Homo sapiens: one gene and its partners. Changing the gene in region 3 together with the main gene of any one other region gives a genetic interaction. Each region holds a gene or a part of one and is shown on either strand. Other genes may lie near its edges.

The links.
Region 1: changes in SEC23B (region 3) and EED together harm fitness less than expected from each alone (positive genetic interaction), as found in Homo sapiens cells (one large-scale study listed by BioGRID).
Region 2: changes in SEC23B (region 3) and HDAC8 together harm fitness less than expected from each alone (positive genetic interaction), as found in Homo sapiens cells (one large-scale study listed by BioGRID).
Region 4: changes in SEC23B (region 3) and DAZAP1 together harm fitness more than expected from each alone (negative genetic interaction), as found in Homo sapiens cells (one large-scale study listed by BioGRID).

The regions. Positions count from the first base shown.
Region 1 is NC_000011.10:86,248,665-86,256,174, reverse strand, and holds part of EED (polycomb protein EED), read right to left. Parts: intron 6,727-7,510; exon of another isoform or gene 6,615-6,726; intron 5,880-6,614; coding exon 5,727-5,879; intron 4,028-5,726; coding exon 3,935-4,027; intron 954-3,934; coding exon 888-953; intron 1-887. UniProt on the Homo sapiens protein: Polycomb group (PcG) protein. Component of the PRC2/EED-EZH2 complex, which methylates 'Lys-9' and 'Lys-27' of histone H3, leading to transcriptional repression of the affected target gene.
Region 2 is NC_000023.11:72,561,078-72,568,587, forward strand, and holds part of HDAC8 (histone deacetylase 8), read right to left. Parts: intron 6,954-7,510; coding exon 6,812-6,953; coding exon of another isoform or gene 6,808-6,811; exon of another isoform or gene 6,720-6,807; coding exon of another isoform or gene 6,680-6,719; exon of another isoform or gene 6,505-6,679; intron 1-6,504. UniProt on the Homo sapiens protein: Histone deacetylase that catalyzes the deacetylation of lysine residues on the N-terminal part of the core histones (H2A, H2B, H3 and H4).
Region 3 is NC_000020.11:18,508,736-18,516,245, reverse strand, and holds part of SEC23B (protein transport protein Sec23B), read right to left. Parts: intron 5,425-7,510; 5' UTR 5,411-5,424; coding exon 5,190-5,410; intron 4,022-5,189; coding exon 3,964-4,021; intron 597-3,963; coding exon 510-596; intron 1-509. UniProt on the Homo sapiens protein: Component of the coat protein complex II (COPII) which promotes the formation of transport vesicles from the endoplasmic reticulum (ER).
Region 4 is NC_000019.10:1,405,944-1,413,887, reverse strand, and holds the start of DAZAP1 (DAZ-associated protein 1), read right to left. Parts: upstream 6,303-7,944; 5' UTR 6,115-6,302; coding exon 6,086-6,114; intron 6,004-6,085; exon of another isoform or gene 4,267-6,003; coding exon of another isoform or gene 3,809-4,266; intron 1-3,808. UniProt on the Homo sapiens protein: RNA-binding protein, which may be required during spermatogenesis.

The DNA of each region.
Region 1 (7,510 bases), on a different chromosome or scaffold from region 3:
TCTTTAGCTGCTTGTACAACTACTCAACTCTGTAGTTGCAGTACCAAAATAACTGCAGAAAATATACAAATGAATGGGCATGGTTGTGTTCAAAACAAAACTTTACAAAAACAGGTGACCAACCTGCACGCTGTAGTTTAACCTCTGCTCTATCCCCATACCTCTATAAATATCTAAAAAAGAACAATTCAGTTTTCCACTTTTTTCTTTGTGAGACAGTCTCAATACAACAACAGGTCACATTTCAATATCTTTTAGAGAAGACTGAATGTCCTTGCCTTGTCTTGTTTGCTAGGTTTTTCAAATGGATCTGGAAGAAATATCTTATTACTTAGCTTTTACCGCTCTAACTCGGGCTTTTCAAATTTTTCTGTTTCTTTATGAACCTGTTTTGCAATTTTTATTTCCTATTTTATTTTATTTTTATATATTTTATTTTTCCTAAACTTTTTTTTTCTTCCTAGGCTTCGTTGATCAAATACTTAGAATGACTACCAGTCACAAGCCAAGTTCATCATTATAACTACAATGAAATGATATATTCTAGGCAAGGTCAAAGAAAAAGGAGGTTTTAATCAGTCTTTGCTAATATTTTCTATTACTAGATTTCTAATGCTCCTATCTCTATAGACATCTGCACCCAACCAGCACATCCATCCCACAATGGATTCTTTTCTTTTTCTTTTTGCCTAGCTGAGTTGACACATACCACAATGGATTTCTAAGGGTCAGGAAAACTAGATACAGGATTCTCTTGGGTGATAGTGAAGAAATCGGTTAAGAAAGAACAATAACTTTAGGGAAATGATTAATTTATAAAAGTTTTGGTGCACTTATTGAAAATAAATTCCTTTGACTAAAGATATTAAAAACCCAGGAAAGGATACATCAGCATCCACGTAAGATTGCAACAACCGGATTTCTCCTTGTGAATGACATTCATACAAGGTAACCTAATGAAAATAAAAATACAGTAAATTTCATCTCAAGTATAGAAAACATACTCTCTCCAACTTTTAAACATATTTTAATCGCAATCCTATCTTAAATATACTACAGAAACTACTGCCTTAAAATACCTCCTGTGAGCTTAAAGAAGCCATTATAAAGCTGAATGTTTTACATAATACACAGAGCATATTAAATATTGCAGTAATAGTCGTTTCGATTTCCAATCTTTTAAACTTATATTTCATCCATTCAATTGCCTAGGCAACATAGCAAAACCCCATCTCTATTAAAAAATAAATATTAGGCCGGGCACGGTGGCTCACGCCTGTAATCCCAGCATTTTGGGAGGCCAAGGCATGCGGATCATGAGGTCAAGAGATCAAGACCATCCTGGCCAATATGGTGAAACCCTGTCTCTACCAAAAATACAAAAATTAGCTGAGCGTGGTGGCACATGCCCGTAATCCCAGCTACTCAGGAGGCTGAGGCTGGTGAATCACTTGAACCCGGGAGGCGGAGGTTGCAGTGAGCCGAGATTGCACCATTGCACTCCAGCCTGGCAACAAAAGCGAAACTCTGTCTCAAAAAAAAATAAAATAAAATAAGTCCGGACACAGTGGCTCATGTCTTTAATCCCAGCACTTTGGGAGGCCGAGGCGGGTGGATCACGAGGTCAGGAGATCAAGACCATCCTGGCTAACACGGTGGAACCCCGTCTCTACTAAAAATACAAAAATTAGGTGGGTGTGGTGGCATGTGCCTGTAGTCCCAGCTACTCAGGAGGCTGAGACAGGAGAATCGCTAGAACCCAGGAGGCAGAAGTTGCAGTGAGCCAAGATTGCACCACTGCACTCCAGCCTGGGCAACAGAGAGAGACTCAGTCTCAAAAAAAAAAAAAAACCATAAAAAATAAAAATTCAAATAAAAATAAGTCTTTGGATAGTTTTGGAGTATTTACATATTAGTTACATATTTAAAAGTCTACAATTTGCTTAATGAATTATTTTCTCATGGGTACAGATAATCAAACATTAACTTTCACATGTATGATAGCCTTTTTCATTTGTTGCATACTCTAAAATTAAAACTATACATACACCATACACAATTTTGTAATACTAAACTTTTATAAATTTCTTTCCATTTTCTTTTTTTTTTTTTTTTTTTTTTTTTTTGAGACAGAGTTTCACTCTTGTCGTCCAGACTGGAGTGCAATGGCATGATCTTGGCTCACTGCAACCTCTGCCTCCCGGATTCCAGTGATCCTCCTGCCTCAGCCTCCCGTGTAGCTGAGATTACAGGCACTCGCTATCATGCCCAGCTAATTTTTGTGTTTTTAGTAGAGACAGGGTTTCACCACGTTGGTCAGGCTGGTCTCGAACTCCTGAGTTCAGGTGATCCACCTGCCTCAGCCTCCCAAAATGCTGGGATTACAGGCGTGAGCCACTGTGCCCGGCCCCATTTTTCTTATAGCTTATAGTCAGTCACATTAGCAAAAACCTATTATTATTTTATAATAGTACTGAAGACCTCTGAAGATCCTGTGTATCATCACAACCTATTAATTCATTATCTCCTCTATGTTAATGTTCAAAAAAAATTCTTTATATGGCTGCTAACTAGGTTATGTCTTATGTGGTAATTGTTTTTGTTTTCTTTCTTCCTTTTAAAGAAATTCTAACAGCAGAACTTTTTATAATTCAATAAACTATATGACACCCCTTTATGTCACTTTAAATAAAAATAGGGATTCTTTTTGTTAGAAAACCTAAAACACTGCAATCAGCACACTGGAGCACAAACTATACCAATTATAATACTATCAAAGCTAAATATTAACTTAGGTTTACAGTGGTGTCTTAAAAGTGGACTCAAATTTAATTAATGCACTACATTCCCAACTAGGAAAAAAATAACCTCAACCTTTTCTTAAAACCGCAAAATTTTTCCTCTGAATTGTTGTTTTCAAAGAATCTAGGAACTAAACAACTATAAGCAGACTACATTATCTTAAAACCTACATTTGACTAAACACCAAAAACAGAAGAAAAAAAGCTATTATTTCATGTTATCAACTTCAGTGGTAACTTAAAAATATTTAGAGTTTCAATGAATTGACCTTGTCAAATAGTAAAAGGCCTAGAGCCTTACATGTCATTATAAAATTTCCTTAAAAGGCTGGACATGGTGGCTCATGACTGCAACCCCAGCTCTTTGGGAGGCCAAGGCAGGTAGATTGCTTGAGCCCAAGAGTTCAAGACCAGCATGGGCAACACGGTGAAAACCTATCCCTACAAAAAAAATTAGCCAGGGATGGTAGTGCATGCCTGTAGCTACTCAGAAGGCTGACATGGGAGGATCACCTGAGCCCCAGAAGTTGAGGCTGCAGTAAGCCTTGATTAACCACTGCACTCCATCCTGGAGGAAGGAGTAAGACTCTCTCTCTCTCAAAAACAAACAACAACAACAACAACAACAATCACCACCAAACACTACCTGTCTCAAAACAAAAAAACCCAGCAAACTCAAATGTTTACTGCAAGTAATTAAAACATCTCAATAACTTATTTAAATCCACTGGATTTATGCTTCATTTATAGAGCCATTCATTACCTTAATTTTAAAAAAATCACAGCCAGTTCTTACGCTATTTGAATGATAAATACCAAAATCACTTTAAAAAGAACGCCAATTAAAAAAAAAAAAAAAGGACGCCAATTCTTTCAACCAAGTATTTATGAAGACAAATACAAGTATAAAACCTGTTTCATAAATAATTAGGGGTAATATATTAAATATAGATGTATTTTCAGCCATGCATACTAGTTTTAATTAATTTCTAGAAACCTTCACTCTTACATGAAAGAATCATATTGCTAAACCAGCTTCACAAAATGCACTTTGAAATTATTCTATTTCAATATTACATTAACACCAGATCTGGAAATCAAGCCAAATACTAAATAGACCCCTTAACACTCACTCTGTTGCTTCCTACAGTTGCAAACACTAATGGATCTCCTTCTTTACTGTGCCAGTTAAACTGAACTCCAAACAATGGTTGGTTATGATCTTCCTATAAAATAATCATGAAATAAGAAAAGATTAATGTATCTTACAAACCAGAAAATGACAGTAAACTAACCTATCCCCTTCTTTTTTCCAAAATGCAATACATTATTTTGTGTATCATACATAAGCTAACTTTTGACACTAAAATTAAAAGATGTCTACTAGTCTAGTTTTCACATTTTAAAATATTGTGTATGATAAAGTTTTATCACAACCAAAGGCTGAAATCACAAGTTAGGTAATAACCGCTTACCTACGAAAACACTTATAATATTTGCCTTTTTCTTAATAAGCCAATCATATTCTGAATCACAATAAACTGGATAATTTTGGTGGATACAAAAGGACACAATTTATTTTTCTGAAACAGGAAATTAACAGATGGCCTTAATAGCTTCTCTGGCATTCACTAAATTTTATAAGGCTAAATTTTTCCCTTGTAAAGTGAAGCATAGCAGACTCCATTCAAATCACTGTTTTCTGTTAGTCAGAATGAGAATATCTGAACACTGGGGACTAGGGGAAGAAATAAACTGTAACTGCACAGTTACCAGGAGGCTATAGGAGATGTACAAAGAACAATTATGCACTTTTGTTCACAAAGTTATTTTTCAGCTTTAGGATTTTACTGGCCAACTTCTGGCATTTAACACTGACTTTCAGATGCAGTTTAAGGCACTGTTTTCACTTTTAAAGTACGTCTTTCGTTTTCTCATCATTTGAAAAGCCACAGCTTTAGGATTTTGAAATACTGCCTTAAGTATAAAAGGCAGCTAAAAACATCTTCCAGGTACAGTACCTAAAAGTAGTACGTTAATGTAAATAAATATGCACATGAAACTATAATTGACTTTTAAAAAATATGCTGAGATTAATTTCTCTCCTTTTACAGGAGCAAAATCTGACACACTGAGCATCGAATTTTTGCTACACAGACAGAAAAATGTCATAGTCATAGCTTCTTATGCTTTCCCAAAACTTTACTTATAAAAAATATATTTGGATATTTAGAAAAGGTTTTAACTTACATATGTATGAGATAATACACATTTTTCCTCAGTATAGAAAAAAATAGCCTCACATTTAAAAAACAAACTGGACATATATAAAAGAAAATATCTTAAACACCAGTAACCCCTTTTATAAAGTAAATAAAAATACTATTGGGGACAGATTAATTTAAATAACCAAAACCCCCTTTTCCCTAAATATTTAATATTAAAAAGTTTAAAAATTTTTTACACCTTTTTCTTTGAAAACAGTTATAAATAAAACAAAGGACAGAAACTGTACAAAGTAAAACATCTGTTTCAATTTATACTTAGTCAAAGTTAATGGGTTACATTCAGTTCTTTTTAAAAACTGATGCCAGAAGTGGCTTATGTTTTTTAAGTTTTACTAAAATATAAAGAGTAATAGTTACCCAAATCTTATAATTTGAATGCAAACAATAAAGCAAAAACATCCTGCAACACTGTCACATATTTAAATTAAAACAACAAAAAACAAAACCAAAAAACTAAACATGGGATGGACTAAAATAGATACGCAGTCTGAACTACAAAAAAAAAAACCCTTCAGAAAACATTGTAACTTTAAAATATTTACAACTTGACAGAGTATCCTGAGTACGAAATGCGTGCCACAGAGAAATAATTTCTGAAGCCTAGCATTCAGCCCAAAGGATCTTTTTTTGCACATACCTTGAGACTATTTACACATTTGAAAGAATATTTGCATTTCTTTGACTTCCATTTTCCCTTTCCCCAACTTTTCCTTCCAGGTGCATTTGGCGTGTTTGTAGGTGTATCAGGGCGTTCAGTGTTTGTACCACTTTCTATACTGACAGCGTCATCCTGTAAGCAGTAAATGAGGAAAAATTACATGAAACAGCAATACTGTTTTTAGCAGTAAATAACTCTACTGGGAAGATGCTGACTGACCTAAGAGAAATAATTTCTACAAGAAGAAAAAAATGTATTCTTGCCTCCACATAAGGATAAACATAATCCAGCTACAGGTTAGAAGGTTTGTAGATATTTTATATTTCAACAAAAATGAAAATGAAATAAATACTAATGAGAATAATGGAAGAGTAATACTGTCTTTAATAAGGCACTGGTCTGTTCCAGTCACTTTAATACACTGTATCAGTGAATCTTTACAGCTCTTTACAAAAGGTACTGGAAGTGCTGAAAAAGCCTAACTGGTCTCTTGGCTGGTAATTCCATCCCAAAGCTGTGACTCTTAAATCTGACTGATGTATATGTCTTCATAATGTATTTGACTGCTGCTCAGTCTGGAGCATGGAGCTGGGGAGCCGTTTGAAGCAGGAGTGTTAATGGCTTCTACATTAGATGTCACTTTTTAAAATCCTGTTATTCAAATTCTGCTTATAACGCAAAACATTTAGAATTTTTTTAAAGTGCTACATATATTCTATGCTATTTACAAGTTAAAACTGTCTCATTGTTCTAAAGTAATAATACTCATAAATCAGAACTCCAGAGACTCTCAATCACAATTAAAGTAAATCCTTCCAAAAAAAAGAAATGACTGCAGGAAACCTTGAAAATTCTCCTAATTCATACCTTATCTCACACACGAGTGGCCCTCTAATCTCAGCTCTCTAATCTCAGAAGAGGATTCCACTACCTCCTGATTACAGATTCCAATGTCTCCTTTGGAAAGAAAAGATTTATTTAATCTAGGATCTTAGGGCAGCAGTTCTAAAATACATTCCAGAGGAAGCCTTTTTTTTTTTTTTTTTCCATGAAATGCCTATTAAACAGCCTAGGAAACACTGCTTTAGGGGCTATTTTTAAATTATTGCTTCCTAAAGTTGGTTTTATATAGAAGGTTAAAAAATATCATAAATGAAATAATAGGCGGGTAGCAAGCAGTACGTACTCAACAAATATTTGAATTGTAATTTAATGTGAATATCATTAGTCTTTACAGAAATAGAAAATGTGGTATTTTAATCTCTTTTTCTCTCCACCTTTTCAGTTGTATTCACATAATTAACATCAAACGTAGAAAACAATTCTGTATCTCAGTGGAAAACTATGCATTATCTATATAGCACATCCTTCCAAGTTACCAGACTATAGCCCTCCACTATGTCTTTGAGCTATCTTACAACTCTTTTTTGAGACAGGCTCTCCCTCTGTCACCCACTCTGTCCTTGGTTCAACGCAACCTCCACCTCCCAGACTCAAGTGATCTTCCCCCCACCTTAGCCTCCTGAGTAGCTGGGACAACAGGAGCTGGCCACCACACCCAGCTAATTTTTGGTAGAGACAGAGTTTCACGATGTCGCCCAGGCTGGTCTCAAACTCCTGGACTCAAAGGATCCTCCCACCTCAGCCACCTAAAGTGCTGGGATTACAGGTGTGAGCCACTGCGCCCAGCCACAACTCTTTTTTCATTATGAATAACTGATAGACATGTAAATTTTGTCTCTACAGTAGAGGTTCAAAATGTC
Region 2 (7,510 bases), on a different chromosome or scaffold from region 3:
TCATGGATGGGTAGAATCAATATTGTGAAAATGACCATACTGCCGAAAGCAATCTACAAATTCAGTGCAATTCCCATCAAAATACCACCATCATTCTTCACAGAAATAGAAAAGACAATCCTAAAATTTATATGGAACCAAAAGCTAAGCCAAAACTAAGACTAAGCAAAAAGAACAAATCTGGAGGCATCACATTACCCAACTACAAACTATAAGGCCATAGTCACCAAAACAGCACGATACTGGTATAAAAATAGCACATAGACCAATGGAACAGAATAGAGAAGCTGGAAATAAAGCCAAATGCTTATAGCCAACTCATCTTTGACAAAGCAAACAAAAACATAAAGTGGGGAAAGGACACCCTATTCAACAAATGGTGCTGGGATAATTGGCAAGCCACATGTAGAAGAATGTAACTGGATCCCCATCTCTCACCTTATCAAAAAATCAACTCGAGATGGATCAAAGACTTAAATCTAAGACCTGAAACTATAAAAATTCTAGAAGATAACATTGGAAAAACCCTTCTAGACATTGGCTTAGGCAAAGAATTCATGACCAAAGACCCAAAAACAAATACAACAAAAATAAAGATAAATAGATGAAACATAATTAAGCTAAAATGCTTCTGCACAGCAAAAGAAATAATCAGCAGAGTTAACAACCCACAGAGTGGGAGAAAATCTTCACAATCTATACATCTGACAGAGGACCAATATCCAGAATTACAAAGAACTCAAACAAATCAGCAAGAAAAAAGCAAATAATCCCACTAAAAAGTGAGCTAAGGACATGAATAGACAATTCTCAAAAGAAGATATACAAATGGCCAACAAACATATGAAAAAATGCTCAACATCACTAGCGATCAGGAAAATGCAAATCAAAACCACAATGTGATACTATCTCACTCCTGCAAGAATGGCCATAATAAAAAAATCAAAAAATAATAGATGTTGTTATGGATGTGGTGAAAAGGGAACACTTTTACACTGCTGGTGGGAATGTAAACTAGTACAATCACTATGGAAAACAGTGTGGAGACTCCTTAAAGAACTAAAAGTAGATCTACCATTTGATTTAGCAATCCCACTACTAGGTATCCACCCAGAAAAAAAGAAGTCATTATACGAAAAAGATACTTGCACACGCATGTTTATAGCAGCACAATTTGCAAATGCAAAAATATGGAACCAGCCCAAATGCCCATCAATCAACAAGTGGATAAAGAAAATGTTTTATATATACACCATGGAATACTACTCAGCCATAAAAAGGAATGAGATAATGGCATTCATAGCAACATGGATGGAATTGGAGACTATTATTCTAAGTGAAGTAACTCAGGAATGGAAAACCAAACGTCGTATGTTCTCATTCATGTGGAAGATGAGCTATAAGGACACAAAGGCATAAGAACAACACATTAGACTTTGGGGACTCGGGGGAAAGGATGAGGGGTGATAAGGGATAAAAGACTACACAATGGGTACAGTGTACACTGCTTGGGTGATGGGTGCACCAAAAGCTCAGAAATCACTACTAAATAACTTACTCATGTAACCAAACGCCACCTGTTCTCCAAAAGCCTATTGAAATAAAAAAATATATATATAAAGTTGTAAAAAGAAAATTAAATTAAAAAATAAAAAATAATATTTGGGAGAAAAAATAATTCTGCCACTATATTATTGTTATTCTAAGATAACCACTGTTATCATTCCCACCAGTCTTTTTTTCTTCATATGTTTTACAAAGCTGTGATTACAATGTGCATACATTTTTAAGACCTATTTTTTTTCTTTTTTTTTTTTTTTCTGAGACACAGTCTCACTCTGTCACCCAGGCTGGTGTGCAGTGGCACGATCTCGGCTCTCCGCAACCTCTGCCTCCTGGGTTCAAGCGATTCTCCTGCCTCAGCCTCCCGAGTAGCTGGGATTACAGGTGCCCGCCACCATACCCGGCTAATTTTTGTATTTTTAGTAGAGGCAAGGTTTCACCATGTTGGCCAGGCTGGTCTTGAACTCCTGACCTCAGGTGATCCACCTGCCTCGGCCTCCTAAAGTGCTTGGATTACAGGCATGAGCCACTGCACCCAGCCAAGACCTGCTTTTTTATTGACACACATAAAGTATTTATCTGAAGTTCCCTATAATCCTTATAATCATTATTTAAAATAATAGCATAAGGCTGGGCATGGTGGCACACAACTGTAATCCCAGCACTTTGGGAGGGCAAAGTGGGCTGATTGCTTGAGCCCAGGAGTTAGAGACCAGCCTGGACAACATGGCAAGACCCCATCTCTACAAAAAAAGCCAGGTGTGGTGGTATGTGCCTGTAGTCCCAGCTACTCAGGAGGCTGATGTGGGAGGATTGCTTGACCTTTGGGGAGCAGAGGTTGCAGTGAGCCAAGACCGTGCAACTGCACTCCAGCCTGGGCGACAGAGCAAGACCCTGTCTCATAAGTAAATAATAAATAAATAAATAAAAACAAAAAGCTTTTGCACAGAAGAAAAACAGTAAAACAATAGGATAATATTCTAAGGAGTAGATTCACCATTCCTTTATTGCTAGGCATTCATGTTATTTTAGTTTTTAAAATTTTATAAATAACACTGATAAATACCTTCATGAAAATAGTTTGTTTCCCATATTTAAAAAAAAAATTAGGCCACATTCCCAGAAGTAAGATTACCTGATCAAAGGGCATTAATACACATTGGCTACCAAAATGCTTTCTTCCAAACCACACTCACTAGGAAACTGAGTACCATCTTTTTCAATTCTGTTAAATTTAGGCTTAAAAAGTGGTGGCTCATGCCTGTAATCCCAGCACCTTGGGAGGCCGAGGCAGGCAGATCATGAGGTCAGGAGTTCGAGACCAGCCTGACCAACACGGTGAAACCCCGTCTCTACTAAAAATAAAAAAATTAGCCGGGCATGGTGGCACGCGCCTGTAATCCCAGCTACTCAAGAGGCTGAGGCAGGAGAATCGCTTGAACCCGGGAGGCAGAGGATGCAGTGAGCCGAGATCACACCATTGCACTCCAGCCTGGATGACAGAGCCGAGATTCTGTCTCAAAAAAAAGAGGCTTACCTAATGGTTTTAATTTACATTTCTTTGATTAGTAGTGATGAACATTTTCCAATGTTTTCCAGTTGTCCTTAAACTCCTTTGTAAATTGTCTATTCGTGTTCTTTGTGCAGATTTCTTCTTATACATTATATTGTAGGAGTGGGTTAGATAATACAAGCCTATTACACTTTGTCATATTTATGATACATAGGCTTTTTCAGTCTGTGTTTAGATTTTGAAAATAGCCAAAAAACCTTTTAAAAGTTATTTTGGTTTTAAAATTTTGTACAGTCGGGTTTGATCTTTTCCTTTGTGATTTTAAAAAATTACTTTCTAAGCTTAGAAAATTCTTCCCCTTTAGAAGCTTGATAAATATCCATTCACTCTAGTGTTTAAAATTTGCTTTTTTAAATATTTAACTTTTCAATCTAGCTGTCACTCATTTTAGTTTATTACAGTAGATGAGGGTATAATGGTACAAGCTGTCACAATACCATTCATTTACTCAACAGACCTTTCAACTCCCATTCACTTGCAATGCATCCTTTGTAATAGATTAAATTCTATATAATTGGTCTCTTTGTTGGGGTGGGGGGTGTACTATAACCTATCTGTCTAATTTTTGTACCAGTGTTTTCATTACTGTAGTTTTGGATGCTTAATATCTAATAGTATTAGTCCTTCGTTACTCTTCTTTTGTAGAATATTCTTTGAAAATCATCCTTTTTTAGCTTTCAAATGCAATTATTTGCTGTCTTACTCCTAAGATATAAATTTCTTGCAGGTAGAATTGGTTTATTTCCTTAGAATAGATTGCCAAGAATATTGTTACTGGCCCAACTGGTATGAACATTTTTTCCCATTCTTAACACTTCCAAGGTTTTCAAAAGGGGTTGTATTAATTTCACTGTAATCCTTCTACCACCTGGATATTTTGAAATAAAGAATCTTTTTCAAACTTGGTAGGGGAAACAATATATCTTGCTTCAATTTCTATATCTCTGCTTACTGGTGATGATAAACATACATTTGACATGTAGTAGGTGCCTAATCAATGCTTGTTCAATGAATAAATGGCATGTATGAATCTGTACATATATTTGCAGATGGGAAGTTTAAGCAAATATTGTGATTATAATAGGTAAATGTTGGCTAGATGTAAGTTTGTGGCCTAAATGCCTGTAGTCCATCTACAGAGAGGTTCTAGTTATGCCAAGAACACCTTGGAATTCAGACCTAAACTGGGGCAATCTCTAGAGACTCTGTAATTTATATTTATCACAGGCATGTCCGTTTCCATGCAGGATCAGCTGAAAGATGTCTACAACAGTTAAGGCGATATATGTGGGTATCCCCATGTCTGTGTGCAGCCCAGAAGCAGTCGTGATTGGGTCAAGACAGAGTGTACTTCCTTTGGCAGCAAAACAGTAATAAGAAGCAGAGTACTCCACTGGAAAATGACCCAGGCCCTAGTAGGCCTTCTGCAGTTAATTTAATTGCATAATAAACTGGATGTCATTCATAGAAGCAAGCCTTTTCTATGAAGCCACACTACTTTTCTTCTCAACTTGCCAAGCCCAAGAGGACCTAGAAGTCTTTCGTTCAGAGAAGCTTAGCTTTCTCCTTTCACTCTGCACCTGGGAGGGGAGAGGGTCATTTTTTTTCTCCTAGCAGTCATTGTCTTTATTTTGAATTTAAAAAAAAGGCAGGCGGTGTGCAGTGGCTGTCATGTGTAATGCCAGCACTTTGGGAGGCCAAGGTGGGAGGATCACTTGAGGCCAGGAATTTGAGACCAGCCTGGGCAACATAGCAAGACCTCATCTCTACAAAAAATACAAAAATTATCCAAGCATGGTGGCACGTGCCTGTAGTCCTAGCTACCTAGAAGGCTGAGGTGGGCAGATCCCTTGAACCCAGGAGTTCGAGACTGCAGTGAGCTATGATTGCACCACTGCACTCCAGCCTTGGTGACAGAGAGAGACTCTGTCTCGAAAAAAACAAAACAAGAAAGAAAGAAAGAGGCCAGGTGTGGTGGCACATACCTGTAATGCCAGCACCTTGGGAGGCTGAGGATGGAGGATCCCTTGAGCCCAGGAGTTCAAGATCAGCCTGGGCAACATAGGGAGACATTGTCTTTATTAAAAAACAAAAAACAAAAAACAAACAAACAAACAAACAAAGCAAGAAAAAAGCAAGCAGGCAAGCAAGCAAAAGCTAACAAAAGGCAGCTTGTCTCTGTTTTTAAAACCATGTAAGACTCATTACTAAAACATTGGTTTCCTTTGCTGTGTTGCCCAACTAGTAAATTCTAGCAGTAAACTTTTTCAAGGACTTCCTTGGCCACAAAATCTGTCAATTTGATGGAAAAAATTCTGTTATTATCTTAACCTGCATATGCTGAAGTTGTGCTGTGTTTTATTCTGAAAAACAAAGTGTTGTTTTCTCTTGACCTAAGAGCACCTAAGGTCACGGTTGATTGCATGAACAATTGATTCCTGAGTGAGGCATTGGCAGTTACTACCACAGTGGCTTCATTTCTCTCAGACAGAGGATCGATAAATTCAGAGTTTAAAAAATCCTTCTTCTTCAATGTGGATTAAGTACTACAGAAATATCAAACAAAGTCCCAAATGCTGAAGGAGGGCCCAGCAATCCTTCTCAGACAGACTACTGCAGTTTGACATGTTAACATAAAACTCTAGAAGGTGGCCAGGCGCGGTGGCTCACCCCTGTAATCCCAGCACTTTGGGAGGCCAAGGCAGGCAGATCACCTGAGGTCAGGAGTTTAAGACCAGCCTGGCCAACGTGGTGAAACCCTGTCTCTACAAAAATACAAAAATTAGCTGGGCATGATGGCGGGTGCCTGTAATTCCAGCTACTCAGGAGGCTGAGGCAGGAGAATCACTTGAACTGGGAAGGAGGAGGTTGCAGTAAGCTGAGATCGCGCAACTGCACTCTAGCCTGAACGACAGGGCGAGACTCTGTCTCAAAAACAAACAAACAAATAAACAAACAAACACTCCAAAGGACTTCTCCTCTAACTCCAAGAAGCACCTAGGAAGAGCCTTTTCACAAGCCCTTTGTCTTTGAGAGACATCTACCTCTGGGTTGCTACTTTCATTAGAGGAGCATGAGCCCTCTTCTTGATTCTTCAGCCTTTTGTTTTAAACCTATTAGCGTCAATTTTCCACCTTTTTAAAAATCTGTTTGCCACTTCTTTTAAGAACTAGCTCTAAAATTCACTTCTGCCAAGACTTCCATGATTAATTTCTTTCTACTGATAAGTCTCTTCAGCTCATACATATATTCCATTGGTACCATAACTAATGTTGTTCTCTATTCTAATTTTGTTAATGTTTCTAGACTGTAAGTCCCTCGAAGACAGGGGAATTTCTAGAAAGCCGAAAAGGAATTTAGAGACTGTCTAGTTGTATCCTTTGTTCATTTTATTGATGAAGAAACTGAGGCCTAGGGAGGGTAATCAGTCCAAGTCAGTTAGCCAAGTTAGAAAAACTAGGTGTAGAGCCCAGGTGTCCTGACTTTGAGCAGTGTGCTTTCCACTATATTAGGTAATCTTTTTTCTATTTCACTTGGATTTCTTCAGAATGCCTTGTAAAGTGCCACATACACACACGTCTCTCTGTAAATGTCAATACAATAAGCATAAGAGTTTACATAACTGAGAAACTGACTCAAGGAAAGAGTCAGAAAACAGAAAGGTCATTTTCTTACTTCTTTGCATGATGCCACCCTCCAGACCAGTTAATTGCTACTTTGCACATTCCGTCAATCAGGCATTGGGCAGCTGTGATCGTAGCCCCTCCTATAGCTGCTGCATAGTCAAATATCCCTTCAGTGGCTGGGCAGTCATAACCTTAGGGCAAAAATCAGAAGAGCTGGTTAAAAGGTGAACTGGAAAAAGAGGAGGAATAGGTTGAGGTGTGACAACAACCTAACCTACTAAAAAGCCACTGTGCTAATATCAGCTCCAACTGAGACAGAAACAACTCCAATGTTGGGGATATAATATTTTAAAAGGTTAGAGCTAGAAAGGATAAACCCTCCTGATGAACTAGTCACAGGCTACAGATAGAGAAACCAAGCCTGAGAGGTGATGTGTCTTGTCAGTGGTCACACAGAGCCAGGCTTGGGACCCAGCTCTGTTGACCCCCCAGTTCAATGTTCCTCTGCTAAACCATGCTGTTTTTCTAGACTATCCTGCAGGTCACTTACAGTTTTAAAAAATGCAGCTGTTTAATGAGGGGTGAGGTACAAAAACTTAGCCAGAACATAAATCTGTACTCCAGTTAAAATATAAGGTCACAGGACAGCTAAATCAGCATATACACAGCCAGACCAGATCTGAGCACTGCCAGTAGGGCATAAGCAACTGAAAGGTTTTCTTTCATCTAACCCTTCATGTGGTTTTGC
Region 3 (7,510 bases):
TTACTGTGGCTGCTGGGTGAAGAATAATGTATAAATAGGCAATGGTAACATCAGGGAGAACAATTAGAAGATTCAAGTAAGAAGGAGTGGCTGGCCCAGGGCAGCTGGTAGTAGGGAGGGGGAAGTGGGTGGATTCTGGATAAATTTCAAATATAGAGCCAATGGGATTTTCCAGTGAATTAGATATGGAACATGAAAGAGAGAGGTCAAGGATAAGTCTAAGGTTCTGAAGCTAAACAACTAGATGATGGAGTACCATCAACTGAGATGAAGAAGGCTACAGAGAACAGGTTTGGAATTTAATCAGTTCTACCTTTTTAGTAGCCTTCTATAATGTCAGGACTTGAAAACAATGCCAGTAGATGCACACACATCAAACCTAAAGGTTAGGATCCTGCTGCCCTCACAGCTTTAAGTCCCCTGCCCAGGTAAGAGACATGGAAGACAAAGGATTTCAAGAGAAATTCAGTATTTAACATTGCTCATTAAATGCACAACAAAGAAATTACCTGTATCACGTACTCAATTGTAGAAAACTGGGGCATCAATTCGGCAGGTTGATTCACCTCAGATATGCCTCCATAAGCTGGAGGAAACTGAAAAGAAGGAAACAGTTTTATTAGGGTTGGCATAACTATATTACACTTTTTATTTTCCATGTGTAAAAATGATAATGATGCCAAGACGAGAGGAACACTTGAGCTCAGGAGCTCCAGACTAGCTTGGGCAACACTGTGAGACCCTGTCTGTATACAAGAAGTAAAAACATTAGTTGGGCGTGGTGGCTCACACCTGTAGTCCCAGCTACTCAGAAGGCTGAGGTGGGAGGATCACTTGAACCCAGGAGGTTAAGGCTGCAGTGAGCCATGATTGCGCCACTGCACTCCAGCCTGGGAAACAGAGCAAGACTCTGTCTCAAAAAAGAAGAAAAAAAATGGTAATGACCATGTATTTATTCTGAAAGCACAAAATACAGGACACGTTAAAAAACATAAAAATCAGCATTTAAAACTTCTAACCCTGCCTTATATTTATATCATTTCTGTCCTCTTAAAAAATATTTTTTAGAGCAGTTTTAAGCTATTGTAACTTCTAAATGTTTAAAAGCACACTTTATGTTGCCCAGGCTGGTCTTGAACTCCTGGTTTCAAGTGATTTTCTCCCCTCAGTCTCCCAAAGTGCTGGGATTACAGGCATAAGCCACCATGCCTAGCCAAAAACACACAAATGAAAACCATTTCTTAAGTTTTGCCCTGCAAATTAAAGGCTGAGATTTCACCTATCTCATCAATAGTTAATAGTCTAAATAAAGCCAAAGACTTTATTTAGGTTTATTATTTTGGCTATTATCAATAAAGTAATACATACGGAATGTAGAAAAATTGGCAAGTCCAGGAAAATAGAAGCAAACAAAGGAGGAAAAGCCCCCCAAAATCCTATCACCTAGAAGCAGCTACTGTCAACCTCCTGGCAGATTTCCTTCCAGACTTAAGCACAGTTGAGAACATCCCATATATACAATGTGGAACTTGTTTTTTCCAGTCAACATAATGCCACAGGCATTTTCTTTTGTTTTTAAAACTCTCTGCAAATGTTTTAAATTCACAGCTTGTGGGTTGGCTTATAATCCAAATAGTCTTTAGCTTTACATTAAAAATACAAGTTGAGGTGCATCTCCCCAAAGTGAGCAGATGATCACTCCAGGCCAGTGACCTCAGAGTGACCAAATGCAAGTGCTGCTGAGGAGCTGACAGGCAGCTTTAGGGGCCTCTGGTTGGGAGAGAAGGGTACAACTGAGCTTGCGAGCCCCAGCAAGAATCTCAGTCAGAGCCAGCAGAAGACTCTAGCCCCATCCTGGCCATGACTGCCCACTGACTGCAGCTCCCAGCAGGGATAAGCTCGATCTATGACTACAGACACACCAGCCACCTCCCAGCAACCTGGAGAGGCCCTGTTCACCCACGCAGTCAGCCAGCTGCACAGAAGGGAGCAAAGGAGACGGAGATCACCCTGATCCCTCCGTCTTCCAGCTCTACATTCATTTAGAGCTAGAAAACCCCCACACTGTCCAGCTAGGAAGGTTACAAAAGATTATTTCCACTTAGGACACATAGACTTGCAGATCATACTTATAAATTGGCAGGTGACAATCTTAGGTAAGCATAATAATACCAAATACTTATATGGCACTTACCATGTGTCAAGCACTGTTCTAAGTCCTTTATACTCATTAACTCAGTTTAATTCTCACAATAATCTCATGAAGTGACTATAGGTATACTATACTATCATCCTAATTTTAAAGACAAGGAAGTTGAGGCACAGGCAGTTAAGTGACCTACCCAAAGTTACACAGGAAATAAGTGGTAGATCTGAGAGCCAAACCCAGGCAGTCTGGCTACAGATCTCTGGCTCTTTAGCCACTATGCTACCCTGCCTTAGAATTACTATAATAAATTATATTAAACAAAGACATTAATCCTAAATGTAATAGGGAGCAGAAATGCTTTTAAGATTTCTATATACTTCTGAATCTCTCATGAAGATATATTTTAAATGACATCTGCTTATAGTTTCCGAACCTATGGTCAGTCATCAATTGTACACTGTCCTCTTCATCACTAGACTTATATGCTGTATCTGAGAATGAGTAATTGTAATTATGATCAAATATATGAACGAATGCATGTGAAGAGCTTAAGATCTGTTAGAACAGTGTACACTATGCTGGACACAAATTTTTTCTAACAACTTTATTGAGGTATAGTTTACGCAACATAAAATTCACTCATTTTAATTATACAAGTCAATGATTTTTAGAAAACGTACAGTTGTGCAATAATTACCACAATCCACTTTTAGAACATTTCCACTACAGGCACAGTTACTTTTTTTTTTTTTTTGACACTCTTGCTGTGTTGCCAGGCTGAAGTGCAGTGGCGCAATCTCAGCTCACTGCAACCTCCACCTCCCGGGTTCAAGCGATTCTCCTGCTTCAGCCTCCTGAGTAGCTGGGACTACAAGTGCGCACCACCATGTCCAGCTAATTTTTTATTTTATTTTGAGACGGAGTCTTGCTCTGTTGCCAGGCTGGAGTGCAATGGCTCAATCTCGGCTCACTGCAACCTCCGCCTCCCGGGTTCAAGCGATTCACCTGCCTCAGCCTCCTGAGTAGCTAAGACTACAGGTGGCTGCCACCACTCCTGGCTAATTTTTGTATTTTTAGTAGAGAGGGGATTTCACCATGTTGGCCAGGATGGTCTTGATCTCTTGACCTCATGATCTGCCCGCCTCAGCCTCCCAAAGTGCTGAGATTATAGGCGTAAGTCACCGCGCCCGGCCTAATTTTTGTATTTTTAGTAGAGATGGGGTTTCACCATGTTGGCCAGAATGGTCTCGATTTCTTGACCTCATGATCCACCCACCTCGGCCTCCCAAAATGCTGGGATTACAGGCATGAGCCACTAGGCCTGGCCGCACAGTTACTTTTATAGAGAAGTCTCTCTTGTGATTTGTGAGCTCCTTCTAGTTTGGTACTTTTAAAATTTTTAAATCAAAAGAAGCTCAACACTGATACCTGGACTCTAAAAGTTAGAAAGATCAGAAAATGAAAATTCAGTAATATACACTATCCAATCAGAATATACTGAAGTCAAGAGAAATATGAAAAACAGGTGCTTTCTTTGGGTCACAGATTCACTGCCTACAGAAAATGTGTAAGAAAAGGGAATTCAATGAACACCCCCTCCCCAGCCCCAAGCAAATGACAAGGACTCAAGAAAACCACTCAACAGAATAAACCACAAATGTTCAAATTCAATATTGTGCTTAACAAAAGTTATCACCCTGAGTTCAGCAGAAACTGCTCACTGCCAGTGTAAACACAAATTCAACCTAACTTAATTTTTTTCATAATACAACTAAAATAAAACATATAACATTTTTTAAAAATAATTCACATACCTGATTTCTTTGAAAACAGAAATTACAGGCCCAAAGTTTTGCTCGATAATCAACCTGACTGTGAGAAAGATAAATATTATAAGTAGGTACCACTTTTATTTTTAAAATAAAATTTTTATTTTTAAGGTAGAAAGCGTTCATTTGTAAATTTCAAGTTCAGTAAATCACACAAGTAAGTGTTTCTATGTGTATGCATAAGTATGAGTATGCAAAACGTTCACCGCAGTTAGAATTCTGGCTAAGTACACCACAATTTCCATCAAACAGCCACAGTGAAGAAATACTAAATCTTTTTCTCTTTTCCAATTTCCTAATTTTTTAAATGTCATGATTTATATAAATTATACATTATTTCTCTCTTGCCTTTTATCTTAACATACTCTTCATGATTTTTTTCTAACATCTTTATTGTCCGGCTATGTGAAACTACTAAATTCCAACATTAAAAGCATATTTCACACACAGGAAAATGCTTCTAGATTTTTAACCTGACTTAGCCCATTTTAAGAAAAGTTGGGCAAGCACATTTCACTTCCTCAAATTGGTTCAAGATAATGCTTCAGTTACTTTTCCCTTATTTTCTACATTTAGAAAATTAATAACCAGTGGCTATGCATTCACATATGGGCACATTAAATAAAAGCAATGAGAATGAAGTAAAAAATGTTCCCTCATATAAAAATTTTATGACACTCTCTACCTGTTTAAAAATCATTTCAAATAATGCCCACATTTAAAAGAAATAGGTCACTATCTCAGGCACAAAAAAAAAAAAAATTACACTTAACAAATTGTTAACAGTTAAAATTTCTTCTGCCTGCTACTTCTCCTTGCCATATAGCATCACTGTACCCGGGAAGCATGAGAAGACGGTCTAAGCTTTCGAATTCTTCTGGGAAATTACTTTAAGAGGAATCAATAAAGTCTACAGTTAAGCCAAAAGCAAACTGATTATCAGCCAAAAAAAAAGTGAATTACAAATCCTCTCCCTCTACCTCTACCTCATTCCTGTAAGATTCCAATTTTATCTGGAATTATCAGGCCAGGGAGATTTCTACAAATATTCACCACTTACTACTCACCACAAGAATCGTTTAGGAGTCTCATCATCTACTACTTATCACAAATTTGATGACCTGCCCAAATTTAATGACTTTTATGAGCATCACATAAAATTCATAATATATTGTATTTATCATTTTTACCAGTTTCAAAAGAATCCATACCAAAGTGGGTTGAGAACAGCTTTACAAGTTGGCCTGCTGCAAAGCACAGGTTCATATTGTACAGGAGGTAGGTCTGGACGTTCTTTCAAAGGAGTAAGGAGACAAGCCAGGGGTACAACCATTCTTGTAGCCTCCAGCCGGCTGGAAGGCCACACGTTCCAACTAAAACGCACACCATCCCGTTCTTCATTCTGCTGGATGAACTCCAGGTATGTCGCCATAGTCTAAAAGGGAACTGAAGATAAAACTTTAATTACCTTAATGGTATGTGAAATTCTGAACTAAATGTCAAAAAAAGAAGATGGGTCATGTAACACAGTGTTTCTCTTTTTTTCCCATCTCAGCTCACTGCAGCCTCCACCTCCCGGGTTCAAGCGATTCTCCTGCCACAGCCTCCCAAGTAGCTGGGATTACAAGCCTGTGCCACCAAGCCCGGCTAATTTTTTGTATTTTTAGTAGAGGCAGGGTTTCACCATGTTGGCCAGGCTGGTCTCAAACTCCTGACCTCAGGTGATCCACCCGCCTTGGCCTTCCAAAGTGCTGGGATTACAGGCGTGACCCACTGTACCCGGCCCAACTAACACAGTGTTTCTTAAATACTTGGGAAGAACCTGTTGCTGTAGAATGACAGTATTTCTTTTCCATCTGATACCCAAAAGTCAGTTAACCGCACAGTTATCATTGATCACTGCTCCTTTCTCACCTCTCCTTTCAAGCACTTAAAAATAAATCAAAGGAGTGGGAGGTTTACAATCACCTGATCATCTCCAAACTACATGTAGTTAAACACTACTACTTCAAACCTCCTCACAGATCACACGTCCTATCAGTCAAGCCAATTTCAGCCCCTTGCTCAAGGGTAAGTCTTGAACCCTGTTTCGGCATCCAACTATCTTCCTCTCTAATCTCCTTCCTTTCTTCCTCTATTAAATTTTACATTCCAAGTGATTTTTTTTTCAGTAGCGGGGGGGTGCTCATTCCCTTCCGCACTTTGTTAACTTTGGAGAAAAGAGCTGGATACTGATCTTCAAGTTTGGTTCATAATGGGAACCAGTTTTGAGCTAAATTATTTCTACTTGGTATTACCAAAATTACTATTATGCTGAGTCTCACCAGAACCTCTTTCCTCACCACGGTTGCTTATGTTCATGCCTTGACAGGCTGTGGTCAAGGCCAGGTGTGGTGGCTCACACCTATACTCGCAGCACTTTGGGAGGCTGAGATGGGCGGATCACGAGGTCAGGAGTTCAAGACCAGCCTGGCCAACACAGTGAAACTCCGTCTCTACTAAAAATACAAAAATTAGCCAGGTGTGGTGGCACGTGCCCATAGTCCCAGCTACTCAGGAGGTTGAGGCAGGAGAATCGTCTGAACTCGGGAGGCAGAGATTGCAGTGAGGCGAGACAATGCCATTGCACAGCCTGGGCGACAGAGCCAGACTCTGTTTCAAAAAAAAAATGAAGACTGTGGTCAGTAAAACTGTCCTACAGGCTAAACTCTCAAACCCAGATGATCCCAACTTCATTGAGTATTTATACATCCTGTTCATATCCTAAAATCTAGGGTAACACACAACTCAGCTATTGGGGTTCAAGGGAACAAGCCCCTCAAGAAAAGTAGTAAAAAGGCAAATTAAAGAGTCTATCAAATTAAAGTGGCCTCTCGCGCCCACTTCCTGAATATGGATAACAACTGTCTGTTATTTTGGGAAGTACCATACTGTAAATAATTTTGATTAAGGCAATAATATTGCATGGCTAGAAAAGCAAATGAATTACTCTACTACATAAAGCCCAGAACACAAGAATTCCAATGTTTGCTCCAACTGAAACTCTAAGAAATCTGTTTATTTCTGGCAACGGCAAGAACCTGAAGCACTGTGTGCACAGGAAGCACTCTGGAGCTTCATGGGAAGCAAAGGGATAACTAAAGTCGGAATGAAAGCAAGTTCTATCACAACTCTCAGCAAGTATGTCAGCAGATTTCATTAAATAACCGTCTCTCTCTCAAAACGTTCTTTATTAAAAGGCACTGGCGGCCGGGCGCGGTGGCTCACGCCTGTAATCCCAGCACTTTGGGCGACCGAGGCCGGTGGATGACCTGAGGTCAGGAATTCAAGACCAGCCTGGCCAACATGGCAAAACCCCGTCTCTACTAAAAATACAAAAATTAGCTGGGCGTGGTGGCAGGTGCCTGTAATCCCAGCTACTCGGGAGGCTGCGGCAGGGAGGACTGCTTGACCTTGGGAGGCATTGGTTGCAGTGAGCCGAGATCACGCCACTGCACTCCAGCCTGGGCGACAGAGCGAGACTCCATCTCAA
Region 4 (7,944 bases), on a different chromosome or scaffold from region 3:
TCCTGTAAGTCAGAAGTTATATATACAATTATGGTATAAAAGACTTTCATTACTGAGAACAAGACAGAATTTCAGTTTCTTTTGAAACAAGTCTCAGTCCTTATGGAATCTGAGACAGCAACAGATAGCTTTCGTTTCACATAGCTGTGTCTGGAGCTCCCCACCGCAGGTGACCCGCCCGCCTCGGCCTCCCAAAGTGCTAGGATGACAGGCGTGAGGCACCGCGCGCGGCCACACTGTGTGTTTCTGTTGAGATATTTGAGAGCAGCTTCTAACGCTAAAGCTTCCTGTGTCCATGTGTCTTTTACTACCACTCAGGAGCCACCGGCGAACACCTTCTCCCTGGTCTACAGACAGAAGCCTCCGGGAAGTCCCGGAAAGCAGGGTCATCTCTTCAGTGGCAGGGACTGCCTCCAGGGCCCTGGCACAAAGTCCCTACTTCTGAATCTCAGGATGTTTTAATCAATAAAATAAGAAAGCTCCTGGCTGCCAACCTCACCAGGTCGTGAGTGAGAAGCCGGCACATCAGAAACATGCGGAGCCCTGGGCAGGCACCTCCCAGACACTGTCCATCAACTGCCCAGGCAGCAGAACCAACTCTCACACAAGTAAACGTCGGAGTCCAGGAAGCCGGGCGCGGGCAGAGGCCAAAAGGAGGAGCTGCTGGCTCTCGTGGGCTTGCTACGGGGCTGGCGGTCCGCTTGTCCTCAGCTCCAGGCTTGCTCAGCCTGCACCTTGGCTGGCGGCGTGTGGACTGAGGACGTTAACGGGGCAAGGCAACACTGGCCTACGCAGATGAAGGGGTCGGTGAGCAATGTGGCTCCTGCACCCTGCCTCTGAGGGGCCCGCTGGGTGGGAGAGTCATCACCCAGCTGACGGCATCTCCGACACTGGAAGTCGTGGCTCCTACAGACCTCACACCCCACAAACCCAAAAGGGGTGTTCTCATTAGTGGGGGAGGCGTGGGACGAGCTCCACTTCTTCCCTTGCAACCTGGAGTCCAGCGTGCAGTCTGCCCATCAAAGGTCATGATGAACATCTCCCAGGATCTGCAAGCCTGGCACCCAGGGCCTGCAGCTCGACACCTGGCAGGTGCTCAATCCACGGTGGCCGGCGCAGCCACCCTCTTCTGCCTGTTAAAGCAAAAGCCGTTTTGGATGGCAACCTCGCTTGCTGCGTGCCATTCGGGTGCCTGTGCGGTATTTATGCGTAAAGTCCATCTGCAGAGGCTTCCTCTGGCCTAGGCTGACCACAAAGAGCCCTGACCTCCTGGCAGCACCAGAGTGGGCTTCAAAAACCGGCGGCCAGCCCGGCCATTCGGGGCCAGCAGCCTCAATGGGGGCAGTTGGCAGGCGACCTTTCCCTTCCTGCTGGGCCGGGGGACCAAGCCAGGAGGAGCCTGCCTCCCCACAGACCCCACCTGGCTCTGGGCTCCGCCAGTCACACTCAGCTCCGTGCACAATCTCAAGAGGCAGAAGTCCAGGCCCAGTGGCGGCTGATGTGTGGGGAACCCTTCTCTTCTTCCAGAGCATCAGGAAGAGCCTCTAGGGACTTTCCTGCCCCTAAGACCAGGTGGGAAACCAGGACCACTTCACCCACTGCCTCAGGCCAGTGAGCCCAGCCCGCCCCTCCATAGCCTGGACTCCCTCTCCCCAGCAGGGTCAGATGCCCCCCCTCCAGCCCACGCCTGCAGGGTGTGGGGTCCACAGAACACAGGAGCGGTCCGTGAACTGGAACGCGCTGCTGTGTGCTGAAGGAGCCCCTGAATGCCCACATCCTGGGTGCTAACTGTGGTCACCCTCATCCTCTCCCTGCCAGCCCCGCCCTCCCAGGCGGACCAGTGTTCTCCTTGGCAACGCCTGGAGCCAAGCTGGAAGCTCAGCCTATAAGCATCTGTCGAATGACTGGCCTCTGCCAAAAGCCCTGTCACAGCTCTCAGGGATTCTGACATCATGACATGGTGTCACGGGGACCAGGCCTGGATGGGAAAAGGCCTCAGTTCACAGAAGACAGCACAACCTCAGATTGACGGGTCGCACCATGAACATAGCCGCCTGACCAGGAGCGCCCTCTGTGCGGGGCGGGCAGTGGAGGAGTGTGGACTCCCAGCTCCGGATCTTCCACCCCCTGGGGTGACCCCGGGCCCATCCCTCAACTCCTCTGTGCCTCAGTCTCTCTGGCAAAGCCAAGGGTTAGAGCCAAGGCTACAAGCACAGCTGGGCACGCTGCGCGCTGCTGCTAGCTCTGGGCCACTGGGGAGCTGCTGTGTGAAGGGCAAGCGCCAGGGTCCATGCTGCTGCCTTTCTAGACACCGGCCTGCTCCAGACCATTGGAGCCAAGGCGAGCCAGTCAGGAGCACATCCACCCTCAAGGCCCATTCACAGGAATCAAAGGAGCCGACACAGGACAAGCCATAAACCACAAGGAGCAGCGGCCCCCAGCGCAGGGGCAACCAGGCCAAAAGCACAGATGCTCCCAGACAGTGGCTCTCCCCCCAGCAGGACACTGGGTGATGTCTGGGAACATTTGTGGTTGTCACGACTGGGGGTACTCCTGACCCGGAGTGAATGGAGGCCAAAGGTGCTGCCCAGCACCCTGCAGTGCCCACGGTGCCCCAGAGTGATCCAGGCCAGAGTGCTGACAGAGCCCAGGAGACCTGCCTCGGAATAACTCCAAATGCACCAAGAGAGCCCCAGAAAGGCCGGCACGGCCCCATGAGGTTCCCTATCACTCCCCGCACTGCAACAGCCTCCCCCAGATCACGGCCCTCTCTGGCCTGACCAACAATCTTGCCAGGTGCCTTGTGCTCACTCTGCACAGGTACAAGTAGTCACGGCCTCTAGGGGCCCAGCCAGGAGCCCCACTCAGGATGTCTCCTTCCACAGCCACCCAATAAACCCAGAGACCTGCCATGGGCCTGGCTCTGAGCTGCATGGCCCCCGGCCACAGTCCTGGGTATCCTCGAAGCTGCCCAGAGGCGGCTTTCTCCTCTCTCCGCTGAGTCCTTCCTCCCTCTGTGACTTTCCTACAATATTTCCAGGTGTCCCTGTCTTACCATTCCCCAGTGTACCAGATAAAATCTTCCATAAACCTCTCTCTCCAGTTCCATGACCGTGTGCTGCCTTGGAAGCCAGCAGAACACAATGGCCTGGGCGCTCGAGGTGACCCCTCTGAGCCTCTGTCCTCTCCCCAGTAGGCCAGGCATGGGCCCTATCCCTGACACCTGGTCTACCACCCAGGCGCCTAGCACCCAGCGGCTACTCAACAGGATGTGGCGACCCCGGCCGCGCTGTGTCAGCTTCCCAGAATCCAAGTCAGAGGCGCTCAAGCCAGACTTTAAGATGACTTCACAAGGCCAGGGAGGGCACACTGGAGACTCGGGCCTTCCTGATCGCGCGTGCTCTGAGCGCTCCAGGCCACCTGCTGGTGCCAACCCTCTAACCCTCCTGACAGGTCAGTGCCTGTCCCCCACCCTTCACAAGAGGACCAGGACAGGCCCCGCTCCCAAAGGAGGACACTGTCCATCACATCCACCATGTAGGGTCCGCGTGCCAAACCCACCAGGATCCAGAGAGGGACTCCCCACACCCCACCACACGTATGCGCTTCCTCCTGCATGAAGCCCCCCTCAAGCTGACTGGAAGTCGGTGTGTGTAAGGCATCCGTTATCACCGGCAGGCCTCAGCTGACTTTCATCCCCCATCAAGCTTTACATGGACTTCTAAGCCAGCACAGGGACCCTCAAAACTTGGGACGACTTCTCAGACTCAAAAGCAGAGCTTCCCCCAAGGATGGCTCCCTAACCCACCTTCCAGGTGTGGATTCCCAGGGCAGCAGCTGGACGGCCACAAGTGTCCCAGAACAGGGGGCTCCCAAGCTCCAAGTCTCCTGAGGCGTTGACCCCGCACCCATGCATGCTCCAGGCCCAGCCCTCCAAGCGGGGTCCGGCGGGATCTCCTGCCTCCTCCATGGCAGTGAGCAGTGAGGGCTCTGCATCAGGAAGAGGGAGCTCCTCAGGCTGCCGAGCCCCCCCAGTGGGTAAGGGACACCGCAGACCCATGGCGTCCTGAGAGCCGCCATCTGCCGCAGAGAGGGCCTGCTTCCATCCAAGCTCAGCACCCTCCTGCATGGCACCCACCGCACCTGCAGGGGACTTGCCAGGAGGGCGCTTCGCAGGGTCACAAGCATTTCACGCACACAACAACTCCACACAGCAAGATCAGAGCAGACCGTGGACTCCGCATAGAATGGAAGCCGGTCTCCCATGCGACGGGCGGCTGTGGCAACACTTCTTGCCCAAGGAGTCTGACTTAGAAAGCAGTGGACACTCCTGGCAGCCGGGGAGGAGAGCAGGGTCCATGCACTCCAGTTCTCCTCCACGCAGCCCGTGGCGTCCGGGTGGCCTGCGAGCCTATTTGTGCTGTGGGTGGGACCCCTCCAGACCCAGGCTGGGACCCCAGCTGCCCCACTTCCCAAGGGTGTCCATGCAGGGAGGGGACAGGAGCCCTCACCTCTCTCCAGCCTCCTCACAGCCACGGCTTGGGTGGAGCGGGCCCACGTTCACCCGCGGCTTGAATGGACCTAATCCAGGTACCCCATCTGGGAGCCCTTTCCCTGCCTCACCCCAAAGTCGATGGCTCCATCCCCCATGGCCGGTGGACTCCCTGCTCAGGCCCATCCCTGCAATGTCCCTCACACAGGCACACGGACCCTGCCAAGTCAAAGTGCCTGGAGAGGACTCACAGCACGGGCTAGGCAGGGGCTAAGTGCTTTCATCCTGGTTCTCCAACGGAAGGTGCTCTTTTGTTTTGTCTGGGGAGGGGGAGAGCCCACAAAAGGCATTTCCCATCCACAAGTGTGACCTGTAGCTGGTGCGAGAGGCGCCTGCCAAGGCAACCCTCTAGCAGCAACCGCTCCCGCACTAGCCAAGCCCAGCGCTGAGAACACAGGGCGCTGCTCAAAGCTAAGGGCACCGAGAAATTTACACCAGACCACTAGGAAACCCAACCCAGACTGTTTTGCCGGAAGAATGCAACTCTAAAACGACGTCGCTGCGGCAGGAGCCGCTCCTACCAAAGAATGGCGCCGAGCCCTGGGGCACAGCGAAATGAGGTTTCCCGGCCCCGCGGGGTCCGGAGCAGGTCAGGCTCCTATAGGAGGGGACGCCTCGGCGCAGCAAAGATCCGCGGGCCCGTCGCCGCCTCGGAAGCGCTGACTCTCCCTTCCGCAGCTCAAGCCCACCCCCGGCGGGGAGGCGCCGAGGCAACGTAAACACAGCAGGCCCCGGCTGACCCGAGCCCCCTGGGCCCTGGGTTTGCGAACCCCTCCCGACCTTACCACTTTGGGGGGGTGGGATGGGAGCGGGGAGCCCGGAGCCCCGAGTGGGATAGGTTGGGCGGTGGCAGAACCGGAACCCTCGCCTCGGCTCGCCACGTGCGCCGCCCGCCAAGTTTGGGCGCGCGCTGGGGGCGCCCCGGACCACCCCCCACGCCACAGTTTGGGGTCCCCCTGGCCAGGAAGCCGGGAGGCGGCGGCGACGGCGCCCTGGACTCCCCGCAGACTCCCTCAGGTTCTCATTCGGGGTCCCCCAGGCCAGGAAGCCCTACAGGCGGCAACGGGGACGCTCCAGACCCCCCCAAGTTCCCGTTCGGGGCCGCCACAACCAGGAAGCGGCGGCGGGGGCCCCTGAACCCCTCTGGCTCCCATTCGGGGTCCCTCAGGACGCGCAGTCGGGAAGCGGCGGCACGGGCGCCCCAGGACACCCCCCCAGGTTGCCGTTCGGGGTTCCCCCGACCAGGAAGTCTGGAGGCGGCGGCGGGGCCCCCCGGACCCCTCAGGCTCTCCTTCAGGATCCCCCAGGACGGGAAGCCGGGAAGCGGCGGCGGGGGCGCCAGGACCCCCCCAGACCCCGGGCACCCGTCCAGGGCCCCCGGCGCGAAGCCGCGGCGAGTCCGGGTCCCGAGTCCGCCCCCGGCCGGCGTGACCTTGACGGGGCGGCCCCGGGGGGCGGCGTCTGAGGCCGGGCGGCGGGGAGCGGCGGGCCGGGCTCGGGGCGGAGACGCAGGCCCGCGCCGCTCGTCCTCACCCGATCTCGTCGGCGCCCGAGTTGTTCATGGCGGCGGCGGCGGCGACGCTCGGCGCTCCCGGGCCTCCTCGCTCGCTCCCGCCTCCGGAAGGTCACCCGCTCCGTCGCCCTCCCCACAGCCGCGGCCCGGATCTGCGCAACGGCGGCGGCGGCGGCGGCGGCGGCGGCGGCGGCGGCGGCGGCTGCCTCCTCCCCTCGGCGCCAACGGTCACCGCGCGTCCCCGCGCCGCCGCGCCGCCGCCCCTGCGCACGCCCGGGCGCGCTCCCGCACGGGGTCTCCGGGGGCGGGTCCAGGGGTACTCCGTCTGTGCGTGCGTCCCTGAGGCGGATTTCGCGCCGCCGCAGTCGGGGCCGTCGCGCGTTTTCCTTTCTCCTCGGAGGCTCCTGGCGTTGCCGCGGGGCACGCTGGGAAATGGAGTCCCTGCGCTGGCCCCGCCCCTGCAAGGGGAGGATGCGCGCGGGCCGAGCCACGTGCGTGCGTGCGCGCGCGTGCGGGCTTGCGTGCGCGTGCGCGCTTGCGAGACCGGCGCTCCGGGCTAGGCACTGTGGGCGCAGGCGCGGCTGCCGCTTCCTCTTTAACTCTTCACTCGGAAGCGGTGGAGCCGCGTGGGGCGCTGCGGGGAGTGGGAGTGTACCCGCCCGCACCCCAGGCGGGCGGACGGAGCGGGAACGGCACGTGAGCGTCCCGCGCGAGGCTCCTTCCCCTGTCCGCATTTCACAGAAGAGGATCCCGAGGGTCCGAGAGGCTGAGTCACTTGGCCAAGGTCACCCAGTTCGGGGCTGAACTGGAATCAAATCAAAACAATTAACTAAATTCAATGACTATGAAAAGATATTATTGACCCCCCCCCCAAGTGCTATTACTATTAATAGCCAAATACTGTTTTAGTTGCATCTGTTAATTGCATACATCAGTGGTTCTTCTTCTGGGTGACTTTGCCCCCTAGGGGATAACTTGGCAATGTCTGAAAACACGGTTTTGGTTGTCACAACTTGAGTGCGGGGTGCTGCTGGCATCGAGTGGGTCCAGACCAGACATGCCGCTCAGCACCCTGCAGTGCACACGACGACCCCCCAAAAAGAATGATACCCGTCCTCCAATGTCAGCAGAAGGAGGTGGAAAAACCGGTCTAGGCTGACGGTAGTAAACAGGTGACCCGCAGGGTTTTGTAAAACCGGGTACGTGCTGCCTACTGCTTTTCTCCTTAATCTCACAGCACATTGACAGCCTGATCGTTTGGTTTATTCATCATCACAGAATTAAATAAATACAAGGAACAAGGCCGGGTGAGGTGGCGCACGCCTATAATCCCAACACTTTGGGAGGCCGAGGATCAATTTAGGTCAGGAGATCGAGACCAGCCTAGCCAACATATATAGTGAAACCCCGTCTCTACTAAAAATACAAAAGAAAATTAGCCGGGCGTGGTGGTGGGCGCCTGTAATCCCAGCTACTCGGGAAGCTAAGGCCGGAGAAATGCTTGAAGGCAGGAAGTAGAGGTTGCAGTGAGCCGAGATCGCGCCACTGCACACCAACCTGGGCAACAGAGCAAGACTCCCTCTTAGAAAAAAAAGGGCCGAGCATGGTGGCTCACTCCTGGAATCCCAGCAGTTTGGGAGGCCAAGGTGGGCGGATCACGAGGTCAGGAGATCGAGACCATCCTGGCTAACATGGTGAAACCCCGTCTCTACTAAAAGTACAAAAAATTAGCTCGGCATGGTGGCAGGCGCCTGTAGTCCCAGCTACTCAGGAGGCTGAGGCAGTAGAATTGCTTGAACCCAGGAGGCAGAGCTTGCAGTGAGCCGAGATCGTGCCACTACACTCCAGCCTGGGCGACACGGCAAGACTCTGTCTCAAA